Linked DNA regions of Homo sapiens: region 1 is linked to region 2. Evidence: fine-mapped expression QTL. A gene starts in region 2. The other region holds a variant in brackets. All regions are shown on one strand. Distances are from middle to middle. Region 1 has its middle 28 kb from the start of HYAL4. Region 2 holds the start of ASB15 (ankyrin repeat and SOCS box containing 15).

Region 1 (15,975 bases), 220 kb before region 2:
GTTGATTCTTGGGGCATAGTCAGCCCTTATCATAAAACTATTAGGTGTGACTATATCCACCCTAAACAAAGATATCCCCAGATTACCACCCAGAAGCCAAGGACAAAGGCCAGATCTCTCTTTGGGAAAAGCCAGATTCTTTATAACCCATTGTCTCTCCATCTCACTACCTCCTCTTCTATTTTACTATGAAAGTTTTGATTATATCAACCTTAATTATTGCTTCTAGAGTTGGATTTGTCAGCCTCTTGGATGTGATTACATGGCTATTTCAGCTGCTCTAAGGAAAGATGATCTGTATTTAAAGATTTACATCAGGAATCTAAAAGAGAATTTTGTCTATGTGACAGTTTGGATTTAATCAGACCATCCCAAATACATGCTTCAATTAGGGGAAACCTGTTACACCATTTATATGTAACGTGGTTAAAAAAAAGACAGGAACTTTACATATAATTTATAAAAATCTAAATACATTTTATATATATAGATTTATCATAGATATATATATAGAGAGAGAGAGAGAAAGAGAGATTTCACCTGAAACCCAAAGCTGAAGACAGTGGGGTTGACAACTAAGGAGTTAGAGACATTTACCCATCTCCAGCATATATAAATGGCTAGAAATTATCAGGGCAGAAGGAATGTTCTGTGAAAGGAATTTGAAGTAGAGAGCACTGTCCTAGAACCACACGGGAACTACTGGGAGCTTGGAGGCTGACATGTTTATTTATTCACTCTGCAAATATTTATTCAGCACACATTATTATGTGCAAAGCTCTGCTACAGGTTCTTGGAATAAAGACACTGAGGAGAGATGACAGCAGTGGGAGTGGCCTGCCTTCATGTAATTTAACAGAACAAGGGTACAGGAGTATTTTCATGATCCAAGTGGATTTTACACAGGTAGCCAGGCATGCATCTTCCTGAAAAGTCCAAGGGCAAAGGGAATGTAGGAGGTACTTCTGGGGAAGAAGTAAAGGGGAAGTTTCAAGGTGGTAGCTAAAGCCTGCATTGTTCAAAGCAGAGAATGGTGTCATGTGCGGGGGTGAAGGAGGTGGTGGTGAGAGTTGTGGGGAGAAGGGGGTTTCCTGTAACCAAATTGCAGCAGCGCTTCATGTAAGAAAAAGTCAGCCACTAAATGGCAGCCGTATCAAAAGGCTTTCAGCAGGAAAGATAATTACTAATGTCATTAAACTTAAAAAAATTATATTGCCACCTTTTCTCATCCTCATCCCCATCTTCTAAACCCATCTTTGAATTAGCTGAACAAAAGAACTCACCATACCCCTCTTCTCCACACCTCAGATCCAAGCCTGGTGTGTGGGGAAGAGAGGTAAGAAGTAATAATCAACACTTACATGGCACTTGCCATCTGCCATGTACAGTTTTAAGTGCTTTATATATATCAATAGTGTAATTCTCATAAAAGTCCTATAGGAGAGATACTATTATTTCTTTCATTGTATAGATAAAGAAATTGAAAAGTCAATTACTTGATCAAGGTCACACAGCTAGTAGGTGACAAAAAGTGAGCATTGAAACTCAAGCAGTCTCATCACAGGACTCCTGTTCTTAACAATGCTGACATCCTAACTTGTGTCACACTGAATGAAAAGAGATTGCTATTTTTATATTTTATAAGACTAGACATTTTAATTCCTGAAACTGAGACTGTTTGTTAATGCCTGGAAGTGAGGAAGAGCTGTGGTCTCAGAATTTTCACTTAAGCAGTGGGATGGATGACCATACTCAAAGGCAGCTTTAGAAAAGTAGTAGTTATTTTGTGAAAATTAATAGAGTTATTTTGTATGTACTATCTAGGTAACTCGGGATAACCTAGAAGAAATGAATAAATTCATATATATATAAATATATGTGTGTGTGTGTGTGTATATATATATATATAAAATATATATGTGTATATATATAAATATATATGTGTGTGTATATATAACTTCTAGAACTAAAAATGAAAAAACAAATAGAATATCTGAATAGACCAATAACGAACATGGAGACTGAATCATTAATCCAAAAATTCCCAACAAAGAAGAGCCCTGGACCTGAAAACTTCACCAGTGAATTGTGCCAAACATTAAAACAATAATGCTAATCTCTCTCTAACTCTTCAAAAATATTGAAGCAAAGGAAACACTTTCAAACTCACTTTATGATGCCAGCATTACCCTGATACCAAAGCAAGGCAAAGATGCTGTAAGAAAAGAAAATTATCAGCCAATATCCCTGATGAAACTGGATGCAAAAATCCTCAACAAAATAATAGCAACCCAAATTCAATAGCACATTAAAAGTATCATACACCATGATCAAGTAGGATTTATTCCTGGGATGCAAGGATGATTCAACACACACAAATCAATAAATGTGATATACCACATAAACAGAATGAAAAATAAAAATCCTATGATCATCTTACTAGAAGCAGAAAAAGCACTTTTTAAAAATTTAACACCCCTTCACAGTAAAAACTCTTAAAACAATAGGTGTAGAAAGAATGTGCCATAACATACAAAGGCCACATATGACAAGCCCATAGCTAACATCATAGTCAATGATGAAAAGTTGAAAGCTTTTTCTCTAACATCAGAAATAACACAAGGATACTCACTCTAATCACTTCTCTTTTATTCATTTTAATTTAATTATTTTTCTTTAACAGATGGAGTCTGTCACCCAGGCTGAAGTGCAGTAGCACAGTCATAGCTCACTACAGCTTTGAACTCCTGGGTTCAAGTCATCCTCCTGCTGTAGCCTCCTGAGAAGCTAGGACTACAAGCACACACCAACACACCTGGCTAGTTTTTTCTTTTTTACCTTTTGTAGAGATGGGGTCACATTATGTTGCCAAGGCTGGGTTTGAACTCCTGGCCTCAAGCAACCTTCATCCCTCAGCTTCTCAAAGTACTGGGATTATAGGCATGAGCCATCTCATCCAGCCAACTCTGACCACTTCTATTCAACGTAGTACTAGAAGTCCTAGCTAGAGCAATTAGGCAAGAAATAAAAATGAATCTGAATTTAAAATTATTCTTGCTGCAGATGATATAGTTCTATATATAGAAAACCCTAAAAACTACAAAAAATGTCATAAGTAATAATGAAATTCAGTAAGGTTGCAGGATACAAAATCAACATACAAAAATTAGTTGAATTTCCATCTATTAATAGTGAGCCATCTGAAAAGGAAACTAAGAAAACAATTCCATTTACAATACCATTAAAAATAATAAAATACTTAGGAATAAACTTAACCAAAAAAGTGAAAGACTTGTACATCAAAAACTACATAATATTGATAAAAGGTGTTAAAAGAGACATAAATAAAAGATAACCTATGTTTATGGATAGAAAAACTTAATATTGTTAAAATGTCCATACTATCCAAAGTGATCTGCAGGCTTGATGCTATCCCCATCAAAATCCCAATGGCATTTTTTACAGAAATAGAAAACAAAAAACTAAACTTTATATGGAACCACAAAAGGCCCAGAACAGCCAAAGTAACCTTGAGAAAGAAGAACAAAACTGGAGGCTTCATATTTCCTCATTTAAATATATATTACAATTCTACAATAATTAAAACACTATGTTTCTGGTATAAAGGAAGATATACAAGTCACAGGAACAGAATAGAGAGTCCAGAAGTAAACCTACACATATATGATCAACTGATGTTTGACAAGAGTGCCAAGAACACAACAGAGAAAGGATAGTCTCTTCAAGAGATGGAGTTGGGAAAACTAGATATCTGTAGGCCCAGAAATGAAATTGGATCCCTATCTTATACCACACACAAAAGTCAATTCAAACTGGACTAAAGACTTATTTAACATTAGACCGAATACTGTAAAACTCCTAGAAGAAAACATAGGGAGAATGCTTCTTGACACTGGTCTTGGAAATTATTCCTTAGACATGACACCAAAAGGACAGGCAACAAAAAGAAACATGGACAAATGGGATGCATCAAACTGAAAAGCTGTTGCACAGCAAAAGAAACAGCAGTATGAAGAGATAACCTACAGAATAGTAGAAATATTTCCAAACCATATGTCTGATAGAGGTCAATATCCAAAATATATAATGAACTTCTATGACTCAGCAAAAAATATATATAACCCAATCAAAGATTAAGCAAAGGACTTGAACAAACATTTCTCCAAAGAAGACATACAAAGAGCTAACAGGTATATGAAAAGACGCTCAAAATCATAATTATTGGGGAAATGTAAATCAAAACAATGAGCTATCACCTCACACCTGTTAGGATGGGTATTATTTAAAAAATAAAAGATAACAAGTGTTGAAGTTGTAGAGAAATGGGAACCCCCATACCCTGTTGATGGGAATGTTAAATGGTACAAGAGCTATGGAAAACAGTATGGAAGATTCCTCAAAAAATTCTAACTATAATAACTACTATATGATTCAGTATAAATGCATATATACTTCTGGATATATAAAAGAAGTGAAATTGCAATCTCAAAGAGGTGTCTGCATTCCCATGTATATTGCAGCACTATTCACAATAGCCAAGAAATGGAAACAATCCAAGTGTCTGTTGACAGATAAATGAATAAGGATAATTCGGTATATACATACAATGAAATATTAGTCAGCCTTTTAAAAGAAGGAAATAATGTCATTTATGACAACCAGATGAACCTGGGGGACATTATTCTGTGTGAACTAAGGCAGTCACAGAAGGACAAATGCTACATGATTCTACTTACGAGGTATCTAAAATAGCCAAACTCGTAGAAGCAAAGAACACAGTAATAGTTGTAAGGGGCTGAGGGTGGGAGAAATGAGAAATTGTTATTTAAAGGTTGTAACGTTTCAGTTATGCTAGATAAATAAGTCCGAGATATGCTAGTTTAGTTACGCTAGATAAACAAGTTCGAGAGATCTCCTGTACAACATAGTGTCTATGGTTAACAATATATTAAGCACTCCAAAATTTAAGAGGGTAGATTTCATATTAAGTGTTCTTATAATAAAAGGGGGATTGGTAATTTTTTTTTTTTTTTTGAGATGGAGTTTCACTCTTGTTGCCCAAGCTGGGGCACAATGGCACAATCTTGACTCACCGCCAACTCTGCATCCCAGGTTCAAGCGACTCTCCTGCCTCAGCCTCCTGAGTAGCTGGGATTACAGGTGTGCACCACCACATCCAGCTAATTTTGTATTTTTAGTAGAGACGGGGTTTCTCCATGTTGGTCAGGCTGGTCTCGAACTCCTGACCACAAGTGATCCACCTGCCTCGGCCTCCCAAAGTGCTGGGATTACAGGGATTACAGGCGTGAGCCACCGTGCCCAGCCAGAACAGAGTAGATTGTTAATAAACCTTTATATACAAATAGATTTTTCTCCCACATGCATTTCTATAATAGGTAATCAGCAAAGTAAAGAATCATTTTTGGGCCAGGTACAGTGGCTCATGCCTGTAATCCCAGCACTTTAGGAGGCTGAGGCGGGCAGATAGCTTAAGGCCAGGAGTTTGAGACCAGCCTGGCCAACATAACGAAACCCTGTCTCTACTAAAAATACAAAAAAATAAGTCAGACATGGTGGCACATGCCTGTAGTCTCAGCTAGTCAGGAGGCTGAGTCACGAGAATCACTTGTACCTGGGAGGCAGAGGTTGCAGTGTGCCAAGATTGCGCCACTGCACTCCAGTCTGGTGACAGAGTGAGACTGCCTCACAAAAAAAAAAAAAAGAAAAAAAAAGAATTATTTATCATTTTTGGAGAATCTGCCCTCAGTGCAAATGAAATAATTATTCATTTTTAAAATTTATTACTTTTTGTTTGTCACATATATATTATGCCATTTAATCTACCAAAATCCTGCAGAGGAGGTTTTATTTTAGTCTAATTTTTTAGATGGAGAAGCTGAGACTCAGAAATGTTAACTAACATGCTCAAAATTACACCCCTAGGACATAAACATCAGTTTCTCACTTAGCTGTCTGATTAGAATGATTGTGCTCTTTCTACCCTTCTACTAACCACAATGGCTGGTATGGAGTAGGTGCTCAATGTTAGACCCTGTACTTTTTGAATTTCACTAAGGTCAAGTAAGCAGATAATCAGCAACCATTTGACTCTGATGCGAAAAAAAAAATGTTTTTAAACCAATCTCAAAAGTATATTCAAGTTGCTGACAGAGAAATCATTGCTTACCTTTGAAGCAGAATATTCATATCCTCCCCACAATATTACTCCTGCTGCCCCCAATGCTGCACTTTCGCCAATTGCATGCACTAAGTCCTCCTAGAAAAGAGAGGTATCAGGAGTAGTTTCCACCAAGTCAAATTTTGTCAGTGATAATGCAATAATAAGACTCAATCCCTCAACTGTGGTAAGGAACACGTTAATAATGATATCTTTGTTTCCAAAACAAAGGACTGTACCACAAGGTAAATACTGCGTGATCTCACTCAGATAGAATCTGAAAAAGTTAATCTCATGGAAGTAGATAGTAGAATGGTGATTACCCGAGGCTGAGGTGGTTAGGAGGGAGAGGGGATTGAGGAGATGTTGGTTAAAGAATACATAATTACAATTAGATAGGAGGAATAAGTTCAAGAGATCTATTGTATAGCATGGTGTCTATAGGTAATGACAACATATTGTATTCTTGAAAAATGCTGAGAGAGTGGATATTAAATGTTCTTAAAATAAAAATAACTGTGAGGTCATGAATTTGTTAATTAGCTAGATTTAACCATTCTGCAATGTATATGTACCTCAAAACATTATGTTGTATATGATAAATACATACAATTGTATATGTCAATTAAAATATAAATTTTAATACACAGAAAAAAAGGCATTTCTTTTAAATAAAGCTATCATACAAAAAATAAAACAAAAGACCATACCAGAATTGGAAAAGGTGATACTGCCTTGGATTCTTAGATTTATTTGAGAAATATTTACAATGTTCCAGGCAATATTCTAAACACTGAGAATATAAAAATGAAATAGATTTCAATTCCTTTTCTTGAAGGAATGCTTTTTAGTCTAATGGTTGAGACAGACATATAAACAAGTGACTATAACATAATAATTTTTATATTAGTAGCACTCACAAAACATATATAAATTAGAAGTGCTTAATACTTCATGGAAGAGTCTGGGAAGGCTTCCTTAACACGTTAAATTTCATATGACTCTTGGGAATGAGAATCAGTAGACTCTTGAGAATGAGTATGAATTCACAAGACAGTCTAGAGAGAGCAGAGTTTTATATCCACAGGAAGAATAAGAGCAGAGACTTAGATCCAGGCAAAATCACAGT[C/A]CATCCAGAGAACTCCCAGTACTTCCTTGTGGTAAAGCACACAGAATTTGGAAAGTAAAAACATATGAATTTCTATGTATAAACAGAATCCAAATACAAAGAGAAAAATGCTGTTTTAAAGTGTTAAGACAACTGGTCAGGTGCAGTGGCTCACGCCTGTAATCTCAGCAATTTGGGAGCCCGAGGCAGACAGATCACTCAAGGTGAGTAGTTCGAGACCAGCCTGGCCAACATGGTGAAACCCTATCTCTACTAAAAATACAAAAATAGCCAGGCATGGTGGTGCCTGCCTGTAATCCCAGCTACTCGGGAGGCTGAGGCAGGAGAGTCTCTTGAATTCAGGAGGCGGAGGTTGCAGTGAGCCGAGATCCTGTCACTAAACTCCAGCTTGGGTGACAGGGCGAGACTCCATCTCAAATAAATAAATACATAAATAAATGTTAAATATTTAGTGCTGGAAAGACACAAATTTGCAACTTTGATTTTTTTTTTCTTTTTGCATATAAAGAATGCATTGGAAGATGGGTAATCCCAGCACTTTGGGAGGCTGAGGCGGGTGGATCACCTGAGGTCAGGAGTTCGAGACCAGCCTGACCAAAATGGTGAAACCCTGTCTCTACTAAAAATACAAAAATTAGCCGGCGTGGTGGCACACGCCTGTAATCCCAACTACTCAGGAGGCTGAGGTGGGAGAATCACTTGAACCCAGGAGACGGAGGTTGCAGTGAGCCAAGATCATACCACTGCACTCCAGCCTGGGTGACAGAACGAGACTCCATCTCAAAAAAAAAAAAAAAAAAGAAGAAGAATGCATTGGAGGGGAAGGTCAAGATAGTACAGGCAGGAACACCAATTAGGAGGTGATAGAAATTGTTCGGTGAGAAATGATGATGCCTCAACAAAGGCAATGTAAATCCTTGTAAAGCAGAGGGAATAGATTGAAGAGTTATTTGGAAATAAAGATGGATAAGTTTTAGTTACCCATCCGATAATGGAAAGAGGAAAAGGGAGGCAGCCAAGTGACTTTCAAATTGGGTGACTATATAGATTACAGTTCATAAAGATAAGAAACCGAGGATGTTATGCTAATGTATATAGGCCAAGAGCAAAGAAGTAGGAAATAGGGAGAGATGGGAGATAAAGGGGATGACCAATGGTGCAATCTGCATTCTTTTCTCCCCTACAAGGTATGGAGAGTCAGAGATCCAGTGCAAAGGTGGAGTGCTCACAGACTGCAATGAGTAAATTGTCACGCCACTGTAAGCTTTCCTGCGTTATAGGAAGGTTTCAGCAATACTGGCATTTATGTTCTGCAATTTGTCTAAGTAATACAACAAGAAAGGAAATCATTCTTCCATTATACTGACTAATATCACATTCCTTAAACCTAAATGTAGTCGCTTATTTTAATTGAGACACTCCTGAAAGCAAATACCAAACAGGACTGGTTTAAAAAAAAATGCGTTGGAAAGTTATGTTACTTAGACCAAAGGTGAGAAAAACCCATACTGTTTTTTGATATATGATACATGGAAGGCAATTAAAACAATTCAATATAATGCTCAGGTGATTCTATATATTTTGGTGAGTAGAGAATGCAGTCTATTGATTTCTCAAGTAGAGCTCAGAGGTGATACTTAGCATATAATTTACTTTAAAAGTCTAATGTACCCACAAAAATTAAAAATAAAAAAGATTAAAAAGTCCAATAGTACAAAAAATAGGAAAGCAATGAACAAGGCTTTTATGAAAATGTGGCTCATCTCATTCTCCCATTTTCTCTCAAGGTGAACTCTTTGACTGCATGAATTATTATTATTTTCTACTGTTATTACTAATAACATGTAATTCCTGACACAAGGTAGGCACTCAAGAATTTCTCAATGAATAAATATAACCCAGGTTATTTTTCTGAAAAGGATTTAAGATAGTAAAATGATTTGAGAAAGCTGGCATCACTTGAGGAATACCTTAGCAAGAAGACTTTGGTAGGCAGGCCTGATATCCTAAAATACCTGGACAACTGGCTTTTGAAAGAAGGATTTGCTGTATTCTATGTTGCACCAGAAGGTAGAATTAGAACTAGTGGTATGAAGTTATTAAGAGGCAAAGTAGATTAAATATACTTAAAAACTTTCTAGGAATTAATATTTCCCCCAAATGGCAGTTTCCCTTCTAATATAAGAAGTGCCCCCATCAAAAAGTGTTAAAGTATAAGAAAGGGTTTTTATTTGGGTAGGAGATGGGTTAGTGCCCATGAGATTCTTCCAAATTTTTGTCATAATGCTATGATTCTTTTCCTTCTAAACTTATTGAATGAATAGCCCATTCTGAATAATACTGAGTAATCCTGCAAAGATGAATATGTCAAGTCTAATTAATAATTGGATTTTATTCTGAAATATTTAGGAAGAATTGCTACTGCTTTTAAATGGCCTTATCTCAAACCTAAGTGGTCTAAGTGAGCTGTGTATTGTCCATACAACAGCTCTGCTTCTGTGTTGGGTACTGGCATAAAGTATTGTTGGCTCTCAGGTATAGATGGAGATTTGAGGATTTTCTTATCTAGCCACCTATCCAATGATTGAATCCTTACAAGAATGTCCTATGTGACAATCTAGTTAAAGTTTGGACACTTGCCATGTCTTCAAACTTATTATCTTCTAAACAAGCTCATCTCCACATCTGTAGGCTTCCAGCTTTGTGTTCAGTCTAAAGACAATATCTGTCTCCTTATATAAACCAGTTTTAATGCCTTGACAATAACCACTAGATTGCATTGTTGACTGTTAAAGACAAAATCAAGAGAACCTATGTAATTTTTTTAGTTAGCCTAGCTAATTAAAACATACAAATGCAATATAATGAGAAATGTAGTTGGTTAATAATTTACCCTAAGCTCTATGTTGCACGTTTTTGATTTGGAAAATTGCTGTTACCTTTTCATATTAAGAAGTTAGTTCTAAAATTTCTCTCTGGTTAAAATTAATCTGTCTGTTACATTATTTAAATCAAGTTTAACCTCTGTTCTGTAGGAAACTCCTGTGAATGCTAAGCTGGTAAGAATCATTATCCAAAAGTGTTAAGTGTACATCTAATTGTCAGTGACATTTTTCAGAATTGAGTTGACATTTGAAGAAATATACATGTTTAATAAGAGAACAGCATTGTATTGCTAAGGGAAAATAAATATCCTAAAACATTTATGTATAGGCTTTATATAGTTATTCTACCAAATTTCCATTTTTTTTAAATGTGAGTGACTGTGCTTTTCCTTACCTGTGACAGAGCTTCAGTACTATGCAAATAAAATGGTCTGGAAAAAATAAAAACTGGCAAAACATAGTCATGTCTAGCCATTTCAGCAACCCTCATGGCTTCTCTAACTCGATAGTGAACAAATTTCAAAGCATTTAAGCTTGACTTCAGTATTTTATCCAAATGTATTGAAGGATAAAGTGCTGCGCTTTTTTCCCACAGCCACAATTTGGACAATTACCTGTGTACGTCTCTGGATTTATTCTGTAATCATAATTGTAGCAGTCTGGATAGAGATAAAAGCCCCATAAACATTTTGGTCTCATTTCTAAAGCCAATGTGAGAGTAATGTTCATGAAATTTTTTCCAGCATTTTCAAATTCCTCTCGGGCAACTGTTTCCACTTTCATTTCTGACCAATAAGGATGATGGTTTCTAGTGAAGGCTAAAGAGTGGTTTTTATATATTATTCTGCTGCCCTGATTTCTATCCCATTGGGGTTTCCAACTTTCCCAGTCAATAACAACAAGTTCTTCTGATCTCCACCAAGGGACACCTTCTCCAATGTCATCAGCAGTTTTCCTAAGGTGTTCAGAAAGGCTCACATTCTGCGGTATTCCTCCATTAAAGGATTTTCCATCTTGAGATAAGTAAGGGTAATACCCTAATTCATTTGGATAAAATATGGCAATTTTTGACCCACTCTGAGTCTCTAAAGGATTTGATATAATGTTAAATACTTGAAGATTTATATCCACGTTGAAGGAAGGCATACAATACATTGTTGGGGCTGCCCAGAAAATGTTGAAAGGCTGGCTCTTGATCACCGGAGGCATTGCTGGTTTGAGGGCTGCCTGAGTTAATAGGATAAAGAGTGGTAGCACTCCTAACCACGCCACCCATGGGTTACACATGGCTTGAGGTTTTCAGCATTACAGCAGTCTCCTTGAAAATAATAAGCAAAATATCATACATAATGGAGTCAAATGTCTCTTAAGTTTTGTGGTATACAATGAATAGACCAAATATTTTAAAATATCTTTGAGGCTTATTAATATCTATGCCAATTTATAGTGAAATGTGAAAAAAATATATACTCAATAAAAACTATAAAAAGTTTCACACATTTGTCAGCTATGCAAACTCTAGCTGCTAGCCATTCTGGTTTTAATTTCCTATGATTCTGAATACGCTAACCCAAACCTTCTTGTACTGACAAGCCTTCACTGGCTCTAAGAGGAACTAGAAAAGAAGTCTGAATGGATTGTCATATCTCCTTATTGATTACTTACAAAGTGACTCCAAGAACATGCCCACTTGAAAATTAACAAATATTGGGATTTTAACTAATATTAAATAGAACAAAAAGAAATAACTAACTGTACTAACAGTAAGTAATACTTTACATGCAATTTGAAATGCACTGGCTTCAAATGTTTATTTTTAAAACAGAGAGCAGTTACCCTTGGAACTAGCATAGGCTGAAATAAAAAACAAGTAGAAATGTTAATTACCCTGTGTTGATTATGGATTTTGGTGCTATCATCTTCTTAGGCATATAAACAAGCCTAAAATCCTATTAGTTCTTTAACTCCAGTGGTTTTCCTATAAAGAAACTGGATTGTATATTCAGCAGTTAAACCCTAAATAAAACTTGTCTCTTTAGGCCCCTTTAACTAGTCTGTTGGGACGAAAACTGCCAAAGAATCTTCCCAGAATATAAGGACTATCTAATAGTTGATGCATTCCAGCCAACAAGATCTCATCCTGAAAGCAATATGGTTTCAGTTACATATCAAAATTATCTTATCGTATGGATTTTTTTAAATAAAGGAATTTATTTTAAACAGATTTTTCTCTGATATAATTAAACTCAGTTTCTTTTTAAGAATCATACATTGTTTCTCATGTAGTTCTTGGTGTCTTTATTTAACGTACTAAATTCAGGAAAGACACCAACCAAAATTGTACGCTAACTCTCACAACATAGCACCCCAAGTTTGTAAAGAAACTTGAGTTCAAGTCGTATGCTCTCTGTACACTGAATTTTTAAATTAACAAATGTGAACGATAATTTACTCTTTTAAATAAATTGGATATTATTGAGACAATTGCCTTCATGTGGAGTGTGTATTATAGCACCAGATGAATCTCTAAGCTATCAGAGATGGTTTTTCTCCCATCACTCTTCTCTAATCATGGGATCTTAATTTGACTCCCACTCCCCCACAAAAATATAAAGGCAAATCTTCTTCATTCTTTATTTGTTGTTCAGGGAAAATGAAAGAATATCTACTCTCCATAAATATTATTCTTTACCTCCCTCTGGTCATGACTGCACATTGCGTATATATATGCCTAATAAACTGACACCCTTGGGAACAAAAAACACCTTTTTAAAATGTCATATCACAATAAATTTTTTAGAGCCAAAGGGCCTAAAAATACAAAATATTGTACTTTAGTAAAATACTGTTACAAATTTCCTCTTCTAGGAGATTTTCATTATGTTTTCCATGTATATAAATGATACACAATCATCTATTTTTCTAGCTAGCCTATGGAAAAATTATTTTGGCATTATTTTGGTCCCTAGTCTACATTTTATAACAGACTTCTACTACAGTAACAAAAATATGCATTATAATGGTATGCATTTTTAAATATAATGAATTCTTTCTACATGCTGCTGAGATTTTATTTTTTCTAGCTATTTTTATTATTCAAAATATAAAACTAGATCTACATTTTTCCACTTATAAAATATATATACTAATACATGCATACATATATACACACATACACTTGAATTTTTGTTCAACAAATCTGATATGTTTCAGGCAAGTAGCCAGGTCTAGTGAAGCAGTGGGGAAAGCAACATAATTCCACACATTGTAAAAAGGTATAGATACCAGCCAGACGCAGTGGCTCACACCTGTATTCCCAGCACTTTGGGAGGCCGAGGCAGGCAGATCACGAGGTCAGGAGTTTGAGACCAGCCTGGCCAACATGGTGAAACCCCATCTCTACTAAAAATACAAAAATTAGCCACGTGTGGTGGTGTGCACCTGTAATCACAGCTACTCAGGAGGCTGAGGCAGGAGAATCACTTGAACCTGGTAGATGGAGGTTGCAGTGAGCTGAGATTGTGCCACCGCACTCCAGCCTGGGTGACAGAGTGAGACTCCCTCTCCGACAACAACAACAACAACAACAAAAAAGGTATAAATACTTAGATGTAAAATATAAAACTATAAAACTCCTAGAAAATAATATAGGAGAAAATTTAGATTACCTTAGACAAGCAGATGACTTTTTAGATACAATACTAAAGGCACAATCCATGAAAGAAATAGTTGACAAACTGGATTTCATTAAAAACATCTCATCTGTGAAAGACACTGTTAAGAAAATGAGAAGACAAGCCACAGACTAAGAGAAAATATTTGCAAAAGACATATCTAACAAAGAAGTGTTATCTAAAATATACAAAATCTCTTAAATTTCAACAACAAGAAAATGAACAACAGATTTAAAAATGAGCAAAAGGCTTGAACAGACATCTCATCAAAGAAGATATACAGATATGAAAAGATGCTCAACATTATATGTCCTTAGAGAATTGCAAATTAAAACAGCAATGAGACACCACTACATGCCTATTAATGAATGGCCCAAATCCAGAACAATTCCAACTCCAAATGTTGGTGAGGATGTGTAGCAACAGGAAACTCTCATACATTGCCAATTGGAATGCAAAATGCTACAGCTATTTTGCAAGACAGTTTGGCAATTTCTCACAAAATTACATATACTCTTACCATACAATCCAATCATTATGCTCCTTGGCATTTACCCAACCAACTTGGAAACTTACACCCACACAAAAATCTGCACAAGAATGTTTATAGAAGCTTTATTCATAATTGCCAAAATCTGTAAGCAACCAAAATGTCCTTCAGTAGGTGAGTAGATAAATGAACTGTGGTACATCCAGATAATGGAATATTATTCAGTGCTAAGAAGAAATGAGCCATCAAGCACTGAAATGATGTGGAGTAAACTTAATATTACTAAGAGAATTAAGTAAGCATCTTACTAAGTGAAATAAACTATCTGTAAAGCTTACAAATTGTACAATTCCAACTATACATGACATTCTGGAAAAGAAAAAATATGGAGACAATAAAAAAATTTAGTGGTTGCCAAGGGTTGGGGAGAGGGACAGATGAATAGGTGGAACACAGTGGATTTGGAGAGCAGTGGAACTATTCTGTGTAATACTTTAATGGTGGATACATGCCGTTATACATTTGTCAAAAGCCATAGAATGCACAACACGAAGAGTGAACCCTAATGTAAACTATAGGCATTGGATAATAAGAACATGTCCATGTAGGTTCATCAGTTATAATAAATGTACCACTCTGGTGGGACATGTCAATAGCAGGGAAGGTTGTGATGTCAGGGAGAAGGGAGTATACAACAAGTCTCTCTACTTTCTGCTCAATTTTGCTAGGAACCTAAAAGTGCTCTGAAAAGTAAAGTCTACTTGAATGAAGAAAGTTATAGATGCAATTGCATTCACTGCTACTATGTTTGTAATAGAAAATCCTAGAAACAACATCTATGTGACCAACAAGGAGTTTCTTAAATATATTGTGAACTATATTATGGTAATTACACCAAATATTATAGTATGAAGTAACACGGGTTTTTTTTTTCCAGTTTCTTGTTGTCTTTCAACTTTTTCATTCATTTTGCCATGAAACCCCTCACAAGAAGAAAGTCAGCTTTAAAGAGCCAATTTCAGATTGACACCTGTCAAGTAAACATTTGCTGCTTCTCTTGCAGCCACTGATACCCACACTTCAACCATGCAGGAACCAGAAGCAACCTAGTATTTGGGGAAAAGCACTTGGCAAGGGATAGAGAAGAAGTGAAACACTCCTTGTCTTTTCTCCTGGCAGATTTTCTTCCATCAGATTTAATCCAGAAGAACGAAAAAAGAGTTAACTTTTACTAAACTTTGAATTTAATTTTATAAACCTAATTAGTGACTGAAGTGCTAAAATCTGGTTGTTGAGACTAAGGATCTGTAGGTGACTATAACTTTGAGGGGTTTAGTCTGCTCTTCAGTTTGATCTGATGGCATATGCTTCAATCAACTGGGGCTGTTCAATAAATTGTTAATGGAAGGGACACTTGCTCCCTCCCTGTCCAGTGGGATGTGACAGGTGAGAGAGAACACAACTAGCAGGTAAGAGAGATGCAGAAGAAAAGGTCCTAGAGATGGATGGTGGTGATGGCTACAATGATATGAATGTACTTAATGCAAGAAAGAATGTTGCAAATGCTGGGGGCAGTGGCTCACACAAGTAATACCAGC
Region 2 (15,975 bases):
TTTTAAAAGCCCTATCCTTCTTCTGTAATTCTATGTCTAGGAAGAAGGCCGGGCCTGGTGGCTCATGCCTGTAATCCGAGGACTTTGGGAGGCTGAGATAGGTGGATTGCCTGAGCTCAGGAGTTTGAGACCAGCCTGGGCAACATGGTGAAACCTCATCTCTACAACAAATACAAAAACTAATTGGATGTGGTGGTAGGCACCTGTAGTATCAGCTACTTGGGGGGCTGAGGTGGGAGGATTGCTTGAGCCTAGAAGGTCGAGGCTGCAGTGAGCCATGTTCATGCCACTTCACTCCAGTTTGGGTGATAAAACAAGACTCTGTCTCAAAAACTAAATAAGTAAATAAATAAAAGAAATAATCAGAGATGTAAAAAAAGATGTGCATGTGAGAATGTTTATCTCAGCTGTGTTTAAATTGCCAAAACATTAGAAACAACATAAATGTCCCAAAATAGGAAATTTGTATAAGACATTATTGTACACATAAAAATGGAATACTACACAGTTATTAAAATTCATATACTTGAAGAATATTTAACATTATATGTAAAGTGTTAGTTTAAGTATGATGTTTATTTAACCAGATATGACTAACCACTTTTAAGGAACTATGATGGATTTTTCCCCCAACTTTATTGAAGTATAGTTGACAATTTAAAATTATATGTATTTACCATGTACAACTTGATAATTCGACATATGTATACATTGTGAAATATTCACCACTATCAAGCTAAGTAAACTATCCATTCTGGCACATAGTTTATCTTTTTTGGGGGTATAGCTATTTTAAAAAACAGTACAAAGGTTTCTCAAAAATTTAAAAATAGAACTACCTTATGATCCAGCAATCTCACTTCTGTGTGTATATATCCAAAGGAATTGAAATCACTATCTCAGAGAGATATCTGCACTTCCATGTTAGTTGCAGCAGTATTTACGGCAGCCAAGATATAGAAACAACCTAAATGTCCATTGACAGATGAATAAATGAAGAAAATGTGCTGTGTATTTACAATGGACTATTAACCTTAAAAAAGAAGAGAATCTTGCCATTTGTGACAACATGGATCAACCTAGAGGACGTTATGCTAAATGAAACAAGCCAGGTACAGAGAGACAAATATTGTGATATTTATCTGTGGAATCTAAAAAGTTGAAGTCATAGAAAAAAGAGTAGAATGTTGGTTGCCTGGGGCTAGGAGGTGCTGGCCAAGGGGTACAAATTTCAGTTAAGCAGGATGAGTAAATTCTGGAAATCTAATGTACAACAATGTAACTGTAGTTAACAATATTGTATTGTATACTTGAAATTTGCTAAGGGTGTAGATTTTAAGAGTTTTCACCACCAGTAACAACAAGAAAAGTGAACTAAGATGGACTTTACAGAGGCAAAGCTTACAAAGCCCTCTCAGGAAAATTAGCTTAGCATCTACCTCTTAGGACTGAGCAGGCCAGGAACCTTGGTGACCTCGAGAAGAGAGAAGATTGCCCAAATGTACAGGAAAGCAGGTAGAACTTGGTGAAGAGAGTTTCTTGGCGTGGGAAGGAGCAGAAATTTGAAAGAGCAATTCATTTATCTGAATCGTCCAAGCAGTGGCTTCATTACCTAAGTTATTGTGTCTGTCTGCATGAAATCAATAGTTTATTTTCCATTAATTAGTGAGTGGTGGCTCCTGAGAAAGGTGAGGCCAGTTACAGACAATAAAAAAGCTACTTTTGGTTTGTGCAATTGAGTTGTAGGGTGAGTAAAAAACGTTTTGACTACATTGATTACCTATAGTAACAATAAAAATAATATCTCCAGACTTTTAAAAAGTATTATTTTTTTTAACTTTCATTTTAAGTTTTATCTTAACGTTTGTTATATAGGTAAATTGTATATTGCAAGGGTTTGGTGTACAGAGTATTTTATCATGCAGGTAATAGGCATAGTACCTCATAGGTAGTTTTTCTATCCTTGCCCTCCTCCCACTTTCGACCCTCAGGTAGGTCTTGGCGTCTGTTGTTCCCTTCTTTGTGTCCGTATGTACTCACAGTTTAGTTCCTACTTGTAAGTGAGAACATGGGGTATTTGGTTTTCTGTTCCGGTGTTAATTTGCTTAGGATAATGACCCTACAGCTCCATCCATGTTGCTGCAAAGGACACAATCTCATTCTTTTTTGTGGCTGGCTAGTATTCTATGGTGTATACGTACAACATTATCTTTATCCAGTCTACTGTCATTGTGCATTTAGGTTGATTCCATGTTTTTGCTGTTGTGAACAATACTGCAGTGAACGTACGTGTGCATGTATCTTTATGGTACGGTGATTTATATTCCTTTGGGTGTATATCCAAAAATGCGATTACTGGATTGAATGGTAATTCTGCTTTAAGTTCTTTGAGAAATCACCAAACTGTTTTCCACAGTGGCCGAACTAAGTTACATTCCCACCAGCATTGTATAAGCATTCCCTTTTCTCCATAACCTCGCCAGCATCTGTTATTTTTTGACTTTTTAGTAGTAGCCATTCTGACTGGTGTGTGAGATGGTATCTCATTGTGGTTTTGATTTGCATTTCTCTAATGATTAGGGATGTTGAGCATTTTAAAAAGTATTATTCTTATGCATATACACATAAATATTCATATACAAATATATATGCATATATTCTCTCCAAAAATATTCATTCCTGGCATAATGTATTTTGTTCAACATGACAAACAATCCTGTCTGGTGCTCAAGTCAAATTTTTTTCCCTTCAAAATTGATTCAAATAATAATGAGTCACTGCATTTTTTCATATCTTGTTTTGAAATCATGTACAGGCCATTGATTTCTTTCTGTTGGAGGCAGTTGAATATAACGGTTGAACCTTTGTTCAAATGCCGACCTGCCTGCATTAGCTGCCTGGTTAACTGTGTCTGACGTGTCACAAGTAGTCAGTAAACATTACCTGTTATTATTCTGTGATTGAACTCCTGTGGAATGGGAAAGTAGGATTCTAGTACTTTTTGAAAGTTTTAGTTCTATTCCTTACCCTTGAATATTGACCCTGACACCCCCATTTTATTTTCTTCTCCCTCCTTTTCCCTAGAATCACCAATTTTCAGAGTTAAAGACTGTCAGGTAGCCCCACCTGTAAATTTTATTTACAACATGCCCAATAAGTAATTGGTAGCCTCAGTTTGAACATCAAAGTGTCAGGGAGTTTGCTATCTCCTCACACGGTGCTTCTTCTTTAGCCAGCATTTTTTTTTTTTTTAGACAGAGTCTCCTTCTGTCAACCAAGCTGGAGTCCAATGGCATGATCTCGGCTCACTGCAACATCCACCTCCCAGGTTCAAGTGATTCTCCTGCCCCAGCCTCCCGAGTAGCTGGGATTACAGGAGCCCACCACTATGCTGGGCTAATTTTTGTATTTTTATTAGAGACAGGGTTTCACCACGTTGGTCAGGCTGGTCTTGAACTCCTGACCTCAGGTGATTCTCCCCCATCGGCCTCCCAAAATGCTGGGATTATAGGCATGAGCTATGGCACCCGGCCTAGCCAGATTTCACAATTAGGAAAACCAGTGAACTTGAATCCACTCTTCAAAACATTATCTGAAGATAATGTTTCTACTTCTCTTACCTTTTTCTGGTTCTCTTTCTCAGAGCTACACTGAGAAAGTAGTGTTCCTCTGCAACACAGGAGCCCTGTTAATATCCCCCAGGAAGGCTGTCAGATCTCCACTGAGCTTTTTCTTCCAGAGGCTGGACAACTGCTCTTCCTATAAGATGGCCTCACCTCCTGCACTGTCTTGACTGCTTTCCTGGAAACACATTTGTTTATCCATTTCTTTCTAAAAGTGACACTGAACCACAGGCTCTGAAGGCAACACAACAGCTACAGTCAGACCAACACAAGTTTAAGTGTTCCCTTTTCTCAAACACTATACATCTGTTAATTTAGTCCAAGTTCAGATAAATATTTAGGCTATTATGTTACAGACTTGATTTAGACCCCAGTATCCCAAAGATCTACAAGTCGTATGTTTTCCCCACGTTGTTTTCTGTGCAATTGTATGCAGGACCCTATTGGACTCTATTTATTCCTATTACATTTTATATTTTTTCAATTTGGCCTTTATTTCCTTCTGCTAAAATTGAATGCATTTTCTATCTCTCCAAGTATTGTTTTATTTGCTGACTTAATAAGCATGCCTTCTATATGTCCTTAAGCTCCACTGATAAAGATAAATGTTGAAAAGAAATTGGCAAAGGACAGAGGCCTCTATGTTGACATTGATCCATTATTTTGCACCCTCCCAGAAAAGGTGTTTATCCAGCTACAAACCCTCTTAAAGACACCACCACCTAGTATTAATGTCTCCTTTTTGATAATAAGACCATCATCAAGGAATATTGTCAAATACCTTGTTGTAATACAAATGCACAGTTATCTATGATACTACATTCCTTTGCTCTGCTAATCAAAAAGACAAAGGAAAAGAATTAACCCACCAATTCTTAGTGATTATTTTTTTCCTAAGGATGTTCAGACTATCCTATTTGTCCATGCAAAAATATACATTCAACGTCTGTTGTGTTCCAGGCACAGGGCTAGACACATATATATGGGATCCATGCCCTCAGAGAGTTTTCTGCCTTTAAATAATGTATTTTAGATTTTTCTCCAGAAATAATACCAATTTCTCTTTAAGGTTTAGCACACAGTAAAGCACATAGCATAGCAAGTCTTTAATAAGTATTTTTATATTGAGTTTAATAATTATTATAACTAATATCTATTGAGTGTTTACCTGTGATAGGGATTACACTAAGTGCATTAAATGGATGTCACTTAACGTCTATGACATAATTCTCCCCCACTTTACAGATGAGAAAACTGAAGCACAGAGTCATTAGGTAACTTACCTAAGCCCACATATCTAGTGGGCAGTGGAGAGTGGGATATAGCCCAGTCATCTGACAATGGAGGCCACACACGCTTAACCAGTATACTCTAACTATGACTCAGCTACTTTGAATGAATTAATGAAAAGAGGGTCTTATTTTGTAACCTAAAAATTCATAAACCTGAGAAAAAGTTTTCTCAAAAAGTTTAAGCAACTACCTAACAAATTCATCGAACAACTCCAGGGGAAATATAAAACTTGTAGGCAAATTTCTATTTGAAGATAAAATATTCTCATAAAATAACTGAAGTGTAAAATTATAATTTTTATCACAATAAATTAATAATCTCAGCACAAAGCAGTGATAAGATTTTTCTTGTCCACATCACTGCTTTACTTCGTGGAAGTCAAATCATTTTAGATATAGAAAGCTCCTTAGAAGTTAACTGTGCATTTAAGAACAATATGAGTGACGATATCAGATAAATTTTAAGGACTTTCCAACCTTTAGATTTTGTGATATAATTTGCAGGAGTAAATTTCCAATTCTATTCGGTTTATTTTTTAAAAAATCTAACTAATTTAAAGAAATGTTTCAATCTGGGCAGAAAGCATTCATCTTTTTCAACAAGTGATGAAAAAGCCTTAAAAGATTTATTTTATTTATTCACAAAAATTATTTAATTTTTTTTATTAGAAACCAAGAGGTGAGCTGAGACCCTTCTGGGATTCTATAGTAAATATATTGACATGTTCTATAAGGATACTCATTCTTAATCTGTTTTTCTCATGATACAATTTTTTATGCTTAGTAATTATGCAATTGAGTTGATATTCTATAAGCAAACAAATTCTAGCTTTAGTCTCTAATTAAAAAGGCTCTAAACAGGTAAGCCCGTAGGTGATCAAGTGGAAAGAAAGTAATGAGTAGCTACTATAATTTGTATTTCAATCTGTTTAAAATATTACCAATAATGAACTATTCAATAAGCTAGTTGGTGAGGTACAGATCAAATATTTCATAATCTCACCTTTTGGAATGATCATCTTGTCATTCTTATCCAGGGACTTGCCTTCCTAAATCAGAGGAAGTGCCCTGGAGCCAATGTGTGCTTCTGTGTATCTAAAATTAAGTATCCAGTTGGTGGTTAAATTAAGACCTGACCTTGTACAACTGAAACATAAGCGGTCTCTGGCACACGGTAAAGTATTACCCATGACTTCTCTAGACTCTCATCAAAAGAAACGCAAGCCTACAGAGGTATAATAAGATTATCTCTGTCCTGATTGGTTCAAAGAACTCTTATGAAAACAAAGGACCTGCCAATTCAGCTGCAGGGAGTGTTGCTACTGATGGAACAAAACCAAACCACTTGGAATTAACGCACAATTTAAAGGTATTTGTTCAAGAGACAAATCTGTAAGTCTTTGTGTTGTCAGAGCCTAATCCACTTTTGACATATTTTAATACACACTATTTTTCTTTCTCCATCTTTCAGATTCAGGTCAAATTTCATTAAATACAATCTTCTTGTCATACTAATTTGCTGTCTTTGATTTTTGTTTAATAATTGCTAGTCTGATATACAGACGGAGATAGGGCAGTCAGTGACATCTAATCTGATCAAGAATTTTTAGGTCAAGTTATTGAGCATATATAGTCTAAAAAAATGAGTAGCAAATGTATTAATAAAACAAGCAAAAAAATTGGGATTTTTAATTGAGGAAGGTTGTTTTCTTTTAAAAAACCAATTAAGTTTATTGTCTTACTGATTTTCCAATGAAAATAGTCTGCCTTAAATTTGTTTTGACACAGCTATCCTTGGATTAACTCAGGCCACCATCGGCACTCACAAAGCCATCTGGCCTCTATCCCCTACACCCCCCTACTAAAACAACTCGTTTTGCAGGTCTCAGTGACCTCTTTCTGACTTACATTAGAAACTCATTTCATATTTTATATTCATTTTCATTTCTTATTTTACAAACCCTCATTGGATTTGCTGCCAGTGATTCTTCCCTTTTTCCTGAAACTCTCTACTTCTTAAGCTACTGGGAGCACTACACGCTTTTGTTTTTCGTCTCATCTCTGACATTTTCTTTGTACTCAGTGTTAATGAATATAAATACGTGGATTGTAGTGAATTTGCCAGTTTTATTTCAAAAATTGAGAAACCGTAAATGTGAAATGAGAGGTCCTAACTCCTCTTTAACTGTGATAAAAGAAGGTGCGTTTCAGTCATCTTCAAAGCAAACTGAGAAGTATTTTATGTTTAAACCACTATTAACTGTGTATTGCAATAGTCAAGGGTAAAAGTTAGATCATTGCATACATTGTCTACATTTTATCATTATTAATCTAATTTGGAATTTTTCAATGAAGAATTCTTGTGAAAAGCAATCAGCATTGTGAAACACTTTAATTTTATACAACTTTTTTTTACTTACAATATTAGAAATTCATATAAAGCTTTAGAGTATAATGCAAATGTGTGGGAAAATGTGCACCTAACACTTTAAAGTGTGGCTTGACACATTGCAGTGACTTTTCTGCTCTTAAACTAATGATGGTATGCCTGTTTTATCCGTTTATATAATAGTTGTTATAGATCTACCTATACCATACAACATTTAAAATAATGCATATAATGATAGAAAAGCCAAAATAAGATCATGTGGTAAAATAAATGAGAGCCTGTTACTGAAGACATAGTCCTGTGAACACGTCTTGCTTTACCACTTACTGTTTCTGTAGATGCATTATTTACATTTTTGAGATTATTTATCTGTAGTATGGGAGTGATGATGATGATGATGATACAATGACCATGGCACCACCATTTTAATGAGGCCTATTCCTCAAGTAGTTAGTCATCTATGCACACACAATAAGACATACTTTGAGTAACTCATATATTTGAAAGAATGATCTATTCATAATGCTAGTAATCGCTTCCACATTTGCCTCTATGAAAGCTGGCTTTTCCTGTGGGTTTTCTCAAAGGGGAAACAAAATGAGTCCTAGCTTTTCAAACAGTGCCTCTAGTTTTGTCTGGTGAGAATGAGTTTCAGGGAGGGGTCAGATTTAACAGTGAAGGACTAGTTGAATACTACTGTTGTTCCAAGGAAGGTATACAAAATGACACTGACATCCAAATACGCATTCCTTCTATCTATATATAGCAAGAAATGCATGTACTGTTTCAAAATGATAATTATAGCAACTGATATGAAAGATGAAGAGTCTTAGGTTAAAATAGTTGAAGCACGGTGTTAGAAGAACTGTCCTTGGACCCACCTATTTCTATTTTGGGAATAAGAAATTTAGGTAGCATTGTTTGTGAATTTCCAGGGAGCAATGTGGCAGCTTGGCCTTCATATTTTAGGCACCTGCCACTGCTACAGCCTCACTTTGCCCACAGGTATTCTTTCTTCCTGAAAAAGAGTGTGGCACTTGCAGGCCTGGATTTTAAAAAACAGCTCTTGCTATGATTAGTCATACAATCCCATCTACCCTCTACAATGCCACTTATTAAGTCCTTTCTGATCCAGCCCATTCTTTATGAGGCTTTGTCAGAACTGGAGCTTTATCTTTGCCTTCTACAAAAAATGGTGTTGTTCAAACACCTTGGGGAGTCCTACTTTAAGTTATCCTATTATTTTTTGTTTGTTTTGTGTGTTTTTTTGGTATTCTTTTTTGTTGTTGTTTTTAAGTTATCCTCTTATTTTGTTGTTTAGTAAGCAATACCCATGTATATCTCTCTTGGCTTCATTTTCACTTTGGTATATTTCAGGCTTTCTCCTTTTTCTCCTTCTTTCTTTTTTGTACTTGACCATTATTTTGGCCTTGGGGTCAGTGATTTAAGAAATGCACATTTTATTTTGGTTAGGCATAAAACAGTAGAAAAGAATATAAAAACATAAAATAAATCCTTTATTTCTAGTATGCTTCCCAGAACCTTGGTAATTGTTTATTTTTGCTATGCTGTACGCTGTTTTTCCAGACTGAAAATCAAACAACTGAAAACATGAGCCAAATCTATTAGCACTGAACTCCTCCAACAGCACTGATGTCACAGGCCCCTGGAAGAATCCACGTTGTTGACATTACTCTGGTCATTTAGTTGCCATGTAGCCAAGCAAAGGCAAGTGACGGAAATAGTATTTTTTAGTAAGGTAGCACTATAGGTAGTTATACTAAATTAATGACAAACAAACAGTGAGGAAGATCCTGTATGGGGTTTCAGTTAGGGGTTTCAAAGTTCACTTTGTCTAGTAAAGTTTTTGGCACTCATCAAATATGTGTTGAATATTTTGTTGAACACTGATGACTTGTTCAAATGGGTTCGCAGTTATTTCTGTTTAACCAAAGTTTAAGTCAATTAAGGTTGAGTCACAATAAATTTTTTAAAAGCTGGTTGATCTTTTTTTTTCTTGTTTTTCCTTTTGCGAACAAAGTACTTAATTTTCACTATTGTGAAAGGCATTTCAAGTGTATCTAAGAGAAACAAACTTGGATTAAAAGGAGAGAATATGTATCTTAGTCTAAGTTCTGCCAGTTTTTGTGAATTAAGACAAATCATTTAGAGATATCTAAAGGTTTATACTTCAGTTTCCTACTGTGTAATAACACTGCTCTTGTTATTTCATATCATTGTTATCAAAATAAGGGCATAATTATGAAAGTTCTTTGAAAAACTAATAATCCCTATACAGATACAGGACTTATAGTCTAGATATAAAAGTATATTATACTTCCAGGGACATAAAATGGACATGAGGGAAACCATTGCATTTGGTTTTCTATTCTATATATACAGACACACATTTTAGTATATGCATAATGTGAGGCTAGGCACTTCTGGGAGTGTCATGATGGGTGGGACATGTGGTTCTAGTCCCAAAAGCTTACCATTGTATAGAGACAAACAAGTAGAGAGATGAGACCTAAGAAGGCTGTGGAGGAGAAGGTCAGAGAACAAAGACACACACACACACACACACACACACACACACACACACACACACGAAGTTTGAAAAGAGAAAATGGTTTTACATTAATGGATCATCAACCTAGAGTAGTTTCCCCATATCTGTGAAGGATTATTTTTTTTTCAGATGAAGTCTTGCTCTGTTGCCCAGGCTGGAGTGCAGTGGTGCGATCTCAGCTCACTGCAACCTCTGCCTCCTGTGTACAAGCAATTCTCCTGCCTCAGCCTCCCGCGTAGCTAGGATTACAGGTGTGTGCCACCACGTCTTCTAATTTTTGTATTTTTAGTAGATACGGGGTTTCACCATGTTGGCCAAGCTGGTCTCGAACTCCTGACCTCAAGTGATCTGCCCACCTTGGCCTCCCAAAGTGCTGGGATTACAGGCGTGAGCCACCACGTCTGGCCAGGGGAGGATATGCTTTAAGACTCACAGTGCTGAGTGCCTGGAAACACAAATAATACAGAACTCTATGTATGCTGGTTTTTTTCCTATACATAGATACTTATGATAACGTTTAATTTATAAATAAAGCACAGTAAGCAATTAACAACAATACTAATAATGAAGAACAATTATAACAACATACTAGCATCAATATTCTTGCAGCCATCATTAAATAAAATAAAGGTTCCTTGAACACAAACACTGTGATACCATCATGATTGATCTGACAATCAGGAAAACCACTAAATGTTCAGATAGGCTGGTGACATATGCAGAGTGAATATGCTGAACAAAGGGGTGATTTATGTTCTAAGCAGAACAGAGCAGGGTGACCCAAAATTTCATCACACTACTCAGAAGGGCATGCAATTTAAACTTATGAATTGTTTATTGCTAGGATTTTTCGTTTAATATTTTTTGACTAGGGTAACAAGCAAAACCGTGTGTAAGAGGGATTATTGTTTAAGAACCTTCCTTTTTCTTCCAGTCTCTTGTAATTCTGACTTCTTACATATCTCAGTAGTGCTAAGGCAAAGAGATTGTCACTATTCTTAGTACCTTATTTAATATAAACCAAGCCTAATTATAATCAGGACTTAAAATAAAGCTCTATATTGGCAACCAAAGTAAATTTTGAATTATTGAAAATTCAGTATTGTACTCTATTCTCTCTGAAAATAATTGATCTTTTCATGTGCATTTGTGTTTTGTTTCAATTTCTAATTGAAGTTGCTAATGCGTAATGACATTTAATTAATATTTGATTGTAAAAAGCATTTTAACAGTACATACTATAGAAGAAATTATATAAATTTAACGAAGAAAACTTAGCACAATAAATTCAAATTTTTCTTTTTCTCTTTCTTTATTTTTTCCTTATTATTACTATTATTATTTTGAGACAGGGTCTCCCTCTGTCACTTAGCCTGGAGTGCACTGGTACGATCTTGGTTCACAGCAACCTCCGCCTCCCAGGCTCAAGTAATCATCTCGCATCAGCCTCCTGAGCAGCTGGGACCACAGGCATGCACCACCACATCTGGCTAATTTTTTTTTTTATTTCTTTTGTAGAGATGGGGTTTGACCTTGTTGTCCAGGCTGGTTTCAAACTCCTGAGTTCGAGCAATCTACCCACCCTTCAAAGTGTTGGGATCACAGGTATGAGCCACTGCACCTGGCCTAAATATTTCAATGTAAATCCATCCTTTCTACCATTAAAAGATGTCACTCTTGCCTCTTGTGGATTCAGGTCTTTATATTTCAAATTGGAGCCACCACTTTGTGTATGTTAAAACAATTTTTAATGGTCTCATGATTTGCCTCCCCCCAATTTTTTTTTCCAATATAAGAGGTAAATTTAGTAATTCCTTTGGGAAACTAGAAAAAGTGTGATGATTTATGCTAGTTTTAGATTTATCTTTAGTAGAACAGTATAAGTACTGAGAAAAAATATTCTGAATATTCCCAAAGTATTTACTACATATTTGGCTTAGTTATGGCTTGATTTCAAGATTTAAAATGTAATTACCATTCAAATAAAGCAAAATTTTACATTTCCTTTATGTATACATTAATATAAAAAGTATTAAATCAGATTGAGTTTTGAGGTTTGGTTAAGCTGTTTTTATGCAGCTTGGAATGTCTGGGTAATTTTCCAGTCTTGAAGATATGGCCCATTCACCCACAGTGTAGACAAATACTTTCAAGGGGGCTTTGGGTGGGAAATGATAGTGAATTGGCTCACTAGCTAAAGAGCATTTACAAAGTCAAGAATGGTAGGATCCAGAGAAGTAGATGAATGTGGGATTCTCACCAGTGCAGTATTTAACAAATATTGACCATCTGCAATGCCAGGTATTATGCTGTGCACTAGGTATGCCAATGAGCTATATCAAGTTCCTGTCACTGAAAAGTTTGTATTTAAGTAGGTGAGGTGAATGTTACATAAGTAAGAAAATGAATTGTGGTAAACTCTGTGAAGAAAATAAGCATGACGATAGTTGGTCATTGAAGTGGGGAGGCTTCCTTCAGAAAGGATAGTCTGAGAGGGAACACATCTGTGCTGAGAACTTTCACAAAGAATAACCCGACACAGAAAGGTATAGAGGACAAACTTTTAGGAAGATGAAATGTAAGTTTAATTTTACTTTTTGTCATGAGGCAAAAAGGATGTGCCATGTTGAAGGGATCAACCAGAGAACAAATGAAAGTGAAGATCATCAAGGGATGGTAGGGATGGGAGGTGGGCCATGGATAAAAGCTTGGGTTTTATTACAAGCACATGAATTGAATGGCTTTAAGTTAGGGACTAATAATCTGGCTTATTTTTAAACAGTGATCAGTGTCATTTAGGGCAAGTGTCATTTAGGATAAGTGTCATTTAGGCCTCCCATGCCTGGCTCAGCGAGTTCCACGTCCACGGAGCCTTGCTTGCTGCTAGTGCAGCAGTCTGAGATCGACCTGGGATGCTGGAGCTTGGCGGGTGGAGGGGCATCTGCCATTGCTGAGGCTTGAGTAGGCGGTTTTATGCTCACAGTGTAAACAAAGCGGCAGGGAAGCTCGAACTGGGTGGAGCACACGGCTGCTCAGCAAGGCCTACTGCCTCTCTTGATTCCACCTCTGGGGGCAGGGCCTATCTGAACAAAAGGCAGCAGACAGCTTCTGCAGGCTTAAACGTCCCTGCCTGACAGCTCTGAAGAGAGCAGTGGTTCTCCCAGCATGGCATTTGAGATCCAATAATGGACAGACTGCCTCCTTAAGTGGGTCCCTGACCCCCGTGTAGCCTGACAGGGAGACTCCTCCCAGTAGGGGCTGACAGACACCTCATACAGGCAGGTGACCCTCTGGGACGAAGCTTCCAGAGGATGGATCAGGCAGCAATATTTGCTGTTCTGCAGCTTCTGCTGGTGATACCTAGGCAAACAGGGTCTGGAGTGGACCTCCAGCAAACTCCAACAGACTTGCAGCTGAGGGGCCTGTCTGTTAGAAGGAAAACTAACAAACAGAAAGGAATAGCATCAACATCAACAAAAAGGACATCCACACCAAAACCCCATACGTAGGTCACCAACAACAAAGACCAAAGGCAAATGAAACCACAAAGATGGGGAGAAACCAGAGCAGAAAGGCTGAAAATTCCAAAAAGCAGAATGCCTCTTCTCCTCCAAAGGAACACAACTCCTTGCCAGCAAGGGAACAAAACTGGACAGAGAATGAGTTTGACGAGTTGACAGAAGTAGGCCTCAGAAGTCGGTAATAACAAACTTCTCTGAGCTAAAGAAGCATGTTCTAACCCATTGCAAGGAAGCTAAAAACCTTGAAAAAAGGTTAGAGGAATGGCAAACTAGAATAAGCAGTGTAGAGAAGAGCTTAAATGACCTGATGGAGCTGAAAACCACAGTACGAGAACTGCATGAAGCATACACAAGCTTCAGTAGCTGATTTGATCAAGCAGAAGAAGGGATATCGTGATTGATGATCAAATTAGTGAAATAAAGCGAGAAGACAAGATTAGAGAAAAAAGAGTGAAAAGAAATGAACAAAGCCTCCAAGAAATATGGGACTATGTGAAAAGACCAAATCTATGTTTGATTGGTGTACCTGAAAGTGACGGGGAGAATTGAACCAAGTTAGAAAACACTCTTCAGGCTATTATCCAGGAGAACTTCCCCAACCTAGCAAGGCAGGCCAACTTTCAAATTCAGGAAATACAGAGAACGCCACAAAGCTATTCCTCGAGAAGAGCAACCCCAAGACACATAAGTGTTCAGATTCACCAAGGTTGAAATGAAGGAAAAAATGTTAAGGGCAGCCAGAGAGAAAGGTCAGGTTACCCACAAAGAGAAGCCCATCAGACTTAACAGTGGATCTCTTGGCAGAAACCCTACAAGCCAGAAGAGAGTGGGGGCCAAGTATTCAACATTCTTAAAGAAAAAAAAAGAATTTTCAACCCAGAATTTCATATCCAGCCAAACTAAGCTTTGTAAGTGAAGGAGAAATAAAATCCTTTATAGACAAGTAAATGCTGAGAGATTTTGTCACACCAGGCCTGCCTTACAAGAGCTCCTGAAGGAAGCACTAAACATGGAAAGGAACAACGGGTACCAGCCACTGCAAAAACATGCCAAATTATAAAGACCATCGAGGCTGTGAAGAAACTGCATCAATTAACGGGCAAAATAACCAGCTAACATTATAATGGCAGGATCAAACTCACACATAACAATATTAACCTTAAATGTAAACAGGCTAAATGCCCCAATTACAAGACACAGACTGGCAAATTGGATAAAAAGTCAAGACCCATCTGTGTGCTATATTCAGGAGACCCATCTCACATGCAAAGACACACATAGGCTCAAAATAAAGGGTTGGAGTAAGATCTACCAAACAAATGGAAAGTAAAAAAAAAGCAGGGGCTGCAATCCTGGTCTCTGATAAAACAAACTTTAAACCAACAAAGATCAAAAGAGACAAAGAAAACCATTACATAATGGTAAAGGGATCAATTCAACAGGAAGAACTAACTATCCTAAATATATATGCACCCAATACAGGAGCACCGAGATTCATAAAATAAGTCCTTAGAGAACTACAAAGAGACTTAGACTCCCACACAATAATAATGGAAGACTTTAATACCGCACTGTCAATATTGGACAGATCAATGAGACAGAAAATTAACAAGGATATCCAGGACTTGAATTCAGACGTAATGCACATCTACAGAACTCTCCACCCCAAATCAACAGAATATACATTCTTCTCAGCACCACATCGCACTTATTCCGAAATTGACCAAAAAATTGGAAGTAAAACACTCCTCAGCAAATGTAAAAGAACAGAAATCGCAACAAACGGTCTCTCAGACCACAGTGCAATCAAATTAGAAATAAGGATTAAGAAACTCACTCCAAACTGCACAACTGCATGGAAACTGAACAACCTGCTCCTGAGTGACTACTGGGTACATAACAAAATGAAGGCAGAAATGAAGATGTTCTTTGAAATCAATGAGAACAAAGACACAACGTACCAGAATCTCTGGGATACATTTAAAGCAGTGTGTGGAGGGAAATTTATAGCACTAAATGCCCACAAGAGAAAGCAGGAAAGATCTAAAATAATCACCCTAACATCACAATTAAAAGAACTAGAGAAGCAAGAGAAACAAATTCAAAAGCTAGCAGAAGACAAGAAATAACTAAGATCGGAGCAGAACTGAATGAGACAGAGACACAAAAAATCAATGAATCCAAGAGGTGGTTTTTTGAAAAGATCAACAAAATAGATAGACAGCTAGCAAGACTAATAAAGAAGAAAAGAGATAAGAATCAAATAGATGCAATAAAAAATGATAAAGGGGATATCACCACTGATCCCACAGAAATACAAACTACTATCAGAATACTATAAACACCTCTACAGAAATAAACTAAAATATCTAGAAGAAATGGATAAATTCCTGGACACATACACCCTCCCAAGACTAAACCAGGAAAAAGTTGAATCTCTGAATAGACCAATAACAGGTCCTGAAATTGAGGCATTAATTAATAGCCTACCAACAAAAAAAAGTCTGGGGCCAGAAGGATTCACAGCCAAATTCTACCAGAGGTACAAAGAAAAGCTGGTACCATTCCTTCTGAAACT

Evidence for each region. PIP is the estimated chance that this variant, and not a neighbour inherited with it, causes the effect. A credible set is the group of variants that fine-mapping cannot tell apart.
Region 1: its variant is the best candidate, but not a certain one, in a credible set for the expression of ASB15 in skeletal muscle (GTEx, PIP 0.81).

What each region holds. Positions count from the first base shown.
Region 1 is chr7:123,809,664-123,825,638 of GRCh38, reverse strand. It overlaps a transcript of HYAL4 not described here and the pseudogene HYAL6P. Among named protein-coding and RNA genes, the nearest start is that of HYAL4, 28 kb to the left of the region's middle. The variant C/A (reference allele first, on the strand shown) is at 7,329.
Region 2 is chr7:123,591,858-123,607,832 of GRCh38, reverse strand. It overlaps ASB15 (ankyrin repeat and SOCS box containing 15), which reads right to left and starts at 6,012. Exons shown (of 12, transcript NM_001290258.2): 1 at 5,919-6,012; 2 at 3,621-3,801. It also overlaps a transcript of NDUFA5 not described here. RefSeq lists an enhancer at 12,764-13,058.